Homo sapiens: one gene and its partner. The main gene of each other region encodes a partner of the protein of the gene in region 2 in a complex. Each region holds a gene or a part of one and is shown on either strand. Other genes may lie near its edges. The genes, in order: PPP4R2 and PPP4R1.

What was found.
Region 1: PPP4R1 (region 2) and PPP4R2 share a complex: the UniProt entries of both Homo sapiens proteins name them as parts of the PP4 complex.

Annotation. Positions count from the first base shown.
Region 1 is NC_000003.12:73,065,937-73,069,705, reverse strand, and holds the end of PPP4R2 (serine/threonine-protein phosphatase 4 regulatory subunit 2), read right to left. Parts: 3' UTR 508-3,769; downstream 1-507. UniProt on the Homo sapiens protein: Regulatory subunit of serine/threonine-protein phosphatase 4 (PP4). May regulate the activity of PPP4C at centrosomal microtubule organizing centers.
Region 2 is NC_000018.10:9,548,297-9,552,121, forward strand, and holds part of PPP4R1 (serine/threonine-protein phosphatase 4 regulatory subunit 1), read right to left. Parts: intron 2,103-3,825; coding exon 1,982-2,102; intron 1,891-1,981; coding exon 1,756-1,890; intron 1,043-1,755; coding exon 901-1,042; intron 1-900. UniProt on the Homo sapiens protein: Regulatory subunit of serine/threonine-protein phosphatase 4. May play a role in regulation of cell division in renal glomeruli. The PPP4C-PPP4R1 PP4 complex may play a role in dephosphorylation and regulation of HDAC3.

The DNA of each region.
Region 1 (3,769 bases), on a different chromosome or scaffold from region 2:
CCTCCTGAGTAGCCGGGATTACAGGTGCCCACCACCACACCTGGCTAATTTTTGTTATTTTTAGTAGAGACGGGGTTTCATCATGTTGGCCAGGCTGGTCTCGAACTTCTGGCCTCAAGAGATCTACCTGCCTTGGCCTCAAGTGCTGGGATTACAGGCGTGAGCCACTGCGCCCAGCCTTTAAAATGATTAACACAAATATTGTAAATATATACATGTAAGCTAGTGCCAAATTATACCAGTGGAGACTTATTTAAATCTGGATTTTGTTGACAATCAGCATGACTTGCCTGGCAAAGAACCACAACTGTCAAGTCCTGCTGGAACACTTTGTCACCATGTAAGAAACAGGGCTGTAACAAAGTCACACATTGAGTTTCCTCAGTTAAGGATTTGAGGTGGGTGGTGGCGCAGGGTCGGGGGGGGTTGGGGGGGTTGGGGGGGAGTCGGAGTGGCAGCAGGGCAAATAAACCATTATGGCACATAAAATAATTACACACATAGAAATATTCTAATTTATATTTTATTGCATTATGAAAATAATACATTTGGCAAAGTAATCTAGGCTCCAAGTTGAAATAAAAGAAAATCCTGAAGAGTGTACTGATTTTTAAAATGTGAAATAGTAAGATGTAGTCTAACCAATACATACTAGCACTCTTATTAGGCCAAAACCCAGCAAACCTAATTTTTATAATTCCATATGAAATTACAAGGTGTTTTGCATTCATTCATTTTATGATTAGCACAAATCTTGAGAACTGACCCTCACCTTCATCAAAACCAATGTTAAATTCCTGTTCAGAAGACAATTTGAAACACTACCGAAAATTTTTAATTCCTTTGGTTTTGTAAGTTGCATTTTCATCCTTACCATGTTACATTTTTTTCATAATCAAACATTGTAGCAGCTTTAGATTCTGCCCAAGTACCTTTAAGTAAACTAGTATATTACATTTACATTATTTGAAAAGTTGATTTTACAAATGCAAAAATGCATAAATACATGCCTATCTACACCGGCAAAACAAAATACTCTGAATCTCAATGCTTTAACAAGCCACACCTTCTGGCCGAGGATTTCTGGGATGCCTTTCCAAGCCACAGGGCCTGGCTGGCAATTCCACTACTCCAAAACACACGTCTGAAAGGTGTAGTTACAATAAACCCTAAGCAGGTTAAATTTATCTAATAATCAACATTTAAAATATGACATTTTCACTACTTCTGCTACATTTTTCAGAACTGAAAATATATTTTTCAAAAATGTACAAGGATATTTTCACTTTTTAAAAGGGAAAAGTGCTAGAAACATAATACATATATATATATATATCTCACTTTCCTCATCACCATCTTCAAATTTTTTTTACATGTTGGGTTATAGTCTAGAGAACAGGTAAGCAATCTGCTCAAGGTCAGAAACAAAATATCTTTAATCACTGAGGTCTCCATTCTTCATTTAGATCTTTTAACAGGACTTTGCTTGATATATGTTAAGAAATATGCCTAAAATCACTTCTGTTCAGAAGTGAATCAGTTACTATTAGAACTGACATTTTCATTAAGCAAAGTCTGTGTTAAGTGCACCTATGAATACCTGCGGAAATTTACTTCCAAATGGCCATCAATATCTAAAACCAGCTGAACAAGGTTTCCCAATTTAACTACAGAAGTATTCCACCTACCCTAAAGATATTCCATGAGCATTCTACAATTATCTGTATAAACAGCAACAAGTTTGATCTATGATCAACATATGAATATCTAATAAATATTAAAACTATTAAACTATAGATTAAAATGCAGATCTCTCATAGAGTTAAGTGATGTCATTTTGGTACATTCACCATTATTGTACTTTATTTAATAAAGAAATACATTTGCCCTTGCAAATATAGCAATTGCAAGTTTACAAATAAAACCACAGACCTCAAAGTCATAATGCTAAATCTTCAACTTACAACCAACAAAAGTAAATCAATTTGTTTACAAATGGTCCATGGCACTACAATTAAAATAAAAAATATCAAAAGGTCACAGGATCTTAGGTAAGTTTACTGACAATTTCATAAATATTCAAAAGAAAATTTCAAAATTTGTAAACTTAAATTTGCCTCATTTTAACATTTTTGAAAAATTTTTTAAAAATTTACAATGGTTAATTTTTCTCCCCTCTTGGGTATAGTAAATCAATATTCAGATTTTATTTCAACTATTAGACATAGTCATAAATATATCATCTAGCTGTTGTGAACCTGACAGTCAAGTCAGTCAGTAGTATATTATCCTACAAACATAAATGGATCCAAATCGTTTTGGTATTTATAGCCATGATGATTTAAGTAGTCAAAACGCAAAACTTGTGGTTGCCCCCCAAATCACCCAAAAGCATATTATACAGTGTCAGAAACTGTTTGCATCAGTTTTAGAAGCTCATCTGTGTAGTTCAGGTATCTGAAACTAAAAAAGGGGGGATTCTTTCATATTTTGATAAAAATGTAGTCAAATATTTCATAACATTAATATTTATTGCTTTATATGAATACTGTATTGAAAGCCCAAGCATTCAGTTTACACACAGAAATTATACAATTATATACCGCTTCACAAAGGCAGTGAACACATTACATTCTACAAAATCTACTTTACAGAAATTTAAAAACTTTAAATATCAAAAGGTACAGCTGAAGAAACAGGTATAAATTTGGCAGCCAGTAATTTTGACAGGGAAGTTACAGCTTGCATGACTTTAAATATGTAAATTTGAAAATACTGAATTTCGAGTAATCATTGTGCTTTGTGTTGATCTGAAAAATATAACACTGGCTGTCGAAGAAGCATGTTCAAAAATATTTAATTCACTTCAAAATGTCATACAAATTATGGTGGTTTCTATGCACCCCTAAAGCTTCAGTCATTTAGCTCAGGTACATACTAAAGTAATATATTAATTCTTCCAGTACAGTGGTGTTTCATACCATTGACATTTGCATACCCTAGAATAATTTAGAAAGACATGTGTAATATTCACAATGTTCAGAAAAGCAAGCAAAAGGTCAAGGAACCTACTTGGTTCTTCTGAGATGGTCTCATATCAGCTTCATAAACATTCATTCTACAAAATAGTAAGCTAACATTTGAACACAATTTCCAAGATAAAGCATATTTTCTCATAAATAATGAAGTCTTTTTCTCAGGCACCTCAGAAGTATACAAAAGAATTTGAGTTTGAACAGATCTCTTGGAATGTGTTTAACCTGGTATTTCAACAGACTTAAGATTTCCAGGGTTTCACAAGGGCCAGATTTTATTTCAATTACTCAGAAGAGAAAGAAAATGTCTTCTGAAAGAGGTGAACTCAATCATTACCAATAGAAAAAGTATCCACTGTATTCATCTCTTATAGAAACAGAAAAATATAACATTTCCCCCCTTAGAATTATATATATATATATATATATATGTATGTATATATGACTTAAAGTTCCATTGTACGTAGCCAAACAATAAAATCTGGAAACCAGCATGAAACCCTATAATTCACATGTTAAAATGTTGAAACTATGACCAAAATATGAAAACTGCTAGAGCTATCAGAAAGAGACAAGACAAAAAGCTTCTTGCATATGTATAAACTAAATGTGATAATCTCAAAAAACTTTTCAAAATTGTAATTACTTTCCAGTTTAAAAACTTCAATCCTAAATTAAAAAAAAAAAAAAATCTATACACAAACCACTGATTTGCCCAGACCAAAAAAAGAAAG
Region 2 (3,825 bases):
GAGAAAAAAAAATATTCATTTATCCTTATTCTTTGACATCTACTACAAACTTCTTTCTGTGCTTCATTCATCCGTGCAACTATATTTATGAGGTGTTTTGGGCGGCAGGCGGCGGGGGGGTCGATTAAAATAAATAAACCACCTTTAATCTTGAAGAGATTATAATTTCCAACAAAACAAATACTATGGGGCATCTGTCTCTTGCCTAATGAAGAGAAAGCAGAAGGGAGAGCAAACATAGGTAGGTACCAGCCCCCATACTGCAGATTGCAAGTGGCACGCTGCCAGGCAATGGTTTGTACATAAAAACAACACCCAAGTTTAAAAACTAAGTTTTAGGTCAGGCACGGTGGGTCATGCCTGTAATCCCAGCACTTTGGGAGGCTGAGGCAGGCAGATCACATGAGGTCAGGAGTTCGAGACCGGCCTGGCCAACATGGTGAAACCCCATCTCTACTAAAAATACAAAAAATTAGCTGGGCGTGGTGGCGGGCACCTGTAATCCCAGCTACTGGGGAGGCTGAGGCAGAAGAATTGCTTGAACCCGGAAGGCAGAGGTTACAGTGAGCTGAGATCGCACCATTGCACTCCAGCCTGGGTGACAGGGCGAGACTCCGTCTCAAAATATCAAGCAAACAAAAAAACCTAAGTTTTAAATGATAAAAATGATACATGCTTCCGATAAATAAACTCCAACTAGAACAGTAGAGGGCTAATTAAAAAATCCCTTTCATCTTCCATGCCCTCTTGGGAGAATCACCGGAACAACTAAAGTATTTCCTTCCACCAGATTATTTTCTCTGAGCAGACAATACTTCTGCTTTGATATCTGCTGATCCAGTGCAGTCCACAGACCTCCTTCTCTACTCACACGCTTCTTCTAGTGGAGTCACTACCTACCTTTTTCTAGTAGAGTTTGTCTTAATGTCTTTGCAAGCAGCACTCGCACGTTAGGAACCCTGTCATTTGCTAAGGTTAGCAGATGCGGCATGAGATGCACAGCAAACTGGTCCATGGGAAGGCAGTCATCCTCAATGACAGTCTGGGGAAGAGAAACAGCTGCTCTAGGCTTCTCTGTCAATGTAGCCAAAAACTCGACTACTGGCTAACAAAATCTCTGAGTGACCACAGGTACAAATTTTAGTTATTGCTTTTTAACCAAAATTCCACGTACTTGGGAACTCAAATCAAAAATTACATAATTAACTGCCCACACGGACAGACACAGTTTTTAAACTGCTCTACGGAGACCTAGAGTGTTCATTCACAGGTGTTTCATTTTCACACCTGCGCTCTGGGTCCCAGACATGAGCACCCTCTAGTGGGAACCGTGGTATGGTATATGTGTGCACAGTATGTGTGTGGTGGGGTACATGTATGTATGCCTGTGTAATATGCAGTGAGGAACAGTGAGGAACATGCATGTATGTGCACTGTGAAATGTACATATACACACGTCTGAATGTGTGCAGAGCAGAACACGCACATACCAGGCATGTGGTGTGGAACAAGCACATACAGCAGGCACGTGGGGTGTGTGTGGTGCATGCCAGTGTAAGGAGGGGCTTGGCTAGCTGGGAGAGAGGGGCCACCAGATGCCCAACAATGGGGGCAGATGATCCTATAAACAGCCAGGCTACTATAAGGTTCTGTTCCTTAAGAGTAAGGAAGAGGGTGAGAGAGAGGTAGGAAGTTAAAGAAGACATTCTTCTAGGAGAAAAACTCACAAACAGGTAAGCCCAGGGCCTCGCTTACCTGGCAGACAAAGACAAAGGCTTGCCGACCAGACCACTTGGGACATCTGCCAAAGTTCTCCACAAGCTCATTGATGAGGTCCACTCCGAACGTTGGTGGTGTTGCCGCGTGCAGCTTCTTCACCATCTCGCTGACCTGGGAGGGTGAGCATGGAGAAATGAGGAACAGCTTCCATTCTAGGATCTTAGAGTTTGCTGATCTAAAATTTTAAAAGTTCAATACATACCAACTTGTAGGAAATCCAACGAACAGAAGAAACTTTGTCTGCACACAGATTCAGAGCAATGGGACGTAAATAGTCATAAACATCTCTGGGACTATATAACTCTAGAAGTAAAATCAGCTGTCTACAAAAAGGAATTACAAAAAGACAATGTTTAAAAATCAGCGAGACAAATGAAAATAGGTTACCCATTTAAATCATCTGTAATACTGGATTACTGAGCACCTGTCTCAAACATACGCAAAGAGGAGTGATTAAGCAGACCTCTCCTGTACAGTTACCTCCAGTCTCTGTGTATCTGGAAATGCACTTACATGCTATTCAAGTTCCTTAGAGTGTAAGGAAAACAAAAGCTGTAGAGTTCTGCATCCATGGGGACTGAGACAGAGCAAAGCACTTCCTAGTATGTTCAACTGGAACATGGCCCACACTGATCCATGGTCACAGTTTGGAATGTGCTGAGAAGCTTCCATCTACAATCAAGTTTCTCAGTAAGAAGTCCCCGCAGAGGGAGGGAGTCCACTGTGTACCTGTCGAGGCTCTGAGGAGCCTTCCTGGAAGGGATTTGCTAGGGATAACAGAGGGAGGGTGTCCTCCAGCAACCTTCCCATCACATCTGAGGGGCCCTGAGACTTTCATGACATCTACCAAGCTAACCTGAAAGCTTCAATGATGGCCTTGAAGAAATACCTTGGATGTGAGACTTTTGCCTTTCAGATTTTATGTTCAAGAGGATTTACATTTCTAATAAGCAGAAAGTCAACTGTAACATGAATATAGATTATGCAGCAATGATAAATGCACCTGTGTATACAAATATGCATCCTCAAAGAGACACACTTATTTTCTGACAAAATTCAAAATAAAAATTCCAAATAGGACCAGTTTCTGCTTAGAATACAGAAAACTGCAAAGAACGTCACTGACCCTACAGTAGAAAAAGCTACATAAACTTCAAGATCTTTTCTTGAGCCCATCAGAGAGCTGGGGTTGCAAAGCACACAAACAACCTAACTTCCCAAGATGGGAAAGAGAACTGCCCCTCAGCAGAGCCCGGATGGACAGGACACCTGCTAGCACCTAACAGGGCAGGGAGAAATCAGCTCGAATTGCAGTCAGCTGCCCAGGGCCAGATGGTGGCTGGCAGGAGCATGGGGTGGCTCAAACAAAGCCAGATGTGCCCGACACAGGGAGCTCACATTCCCAGACAACCTTCTGACTTCCACAGGGTACCTGCCTCCCATGGGTGCTTCAAGAAAGATGGTCAGGAAAAACAGGAGAGATGTCTCATAGCAGGCAGAAGCAACTGACTGACAGCCATGAATCATCAAGCACTCTGCTGGGCCCTTTTCTCGTGCAAAGCAAAAGGCTTAACCTGCTGGTGGAGGGGCCCCAAAGCCTGTCCACCCTGTGGGCCCAGCAAAAATACTGCAACTGTGGGAGAGGAGAACTAATGCTCCTTATTCCAGGAGGAGCTGTAGGAAGTCCTGCCCGAGACCAAGCACAGATAGGAGGTCCCACCCATTACGCAGGGGTGCAGGTACCGCTAAACGCCGGGTGGAATACTCACACTAGAAGACCACTGGTACCCCAGCTGCCACCCTCAGCAAACGACAATGGTAGTGGCAGCCCACAGCGAGAAAAACTGAAGCCCCAAGTACACTGAACGTAACCACAGCAATCACAAAACGCAAACCCAGCTTGACCCTGACTAGATGGACTCACACCCCGGCACTATATGGCAGAAGAGGAGGCGTGTGTTTTGAGTCAGAAGTGGGCAAGCCAGAACTCAATGGAGTGGCATCTTTAATATACTGAAAGACAAACTGTCAGCCCCACATTCCATA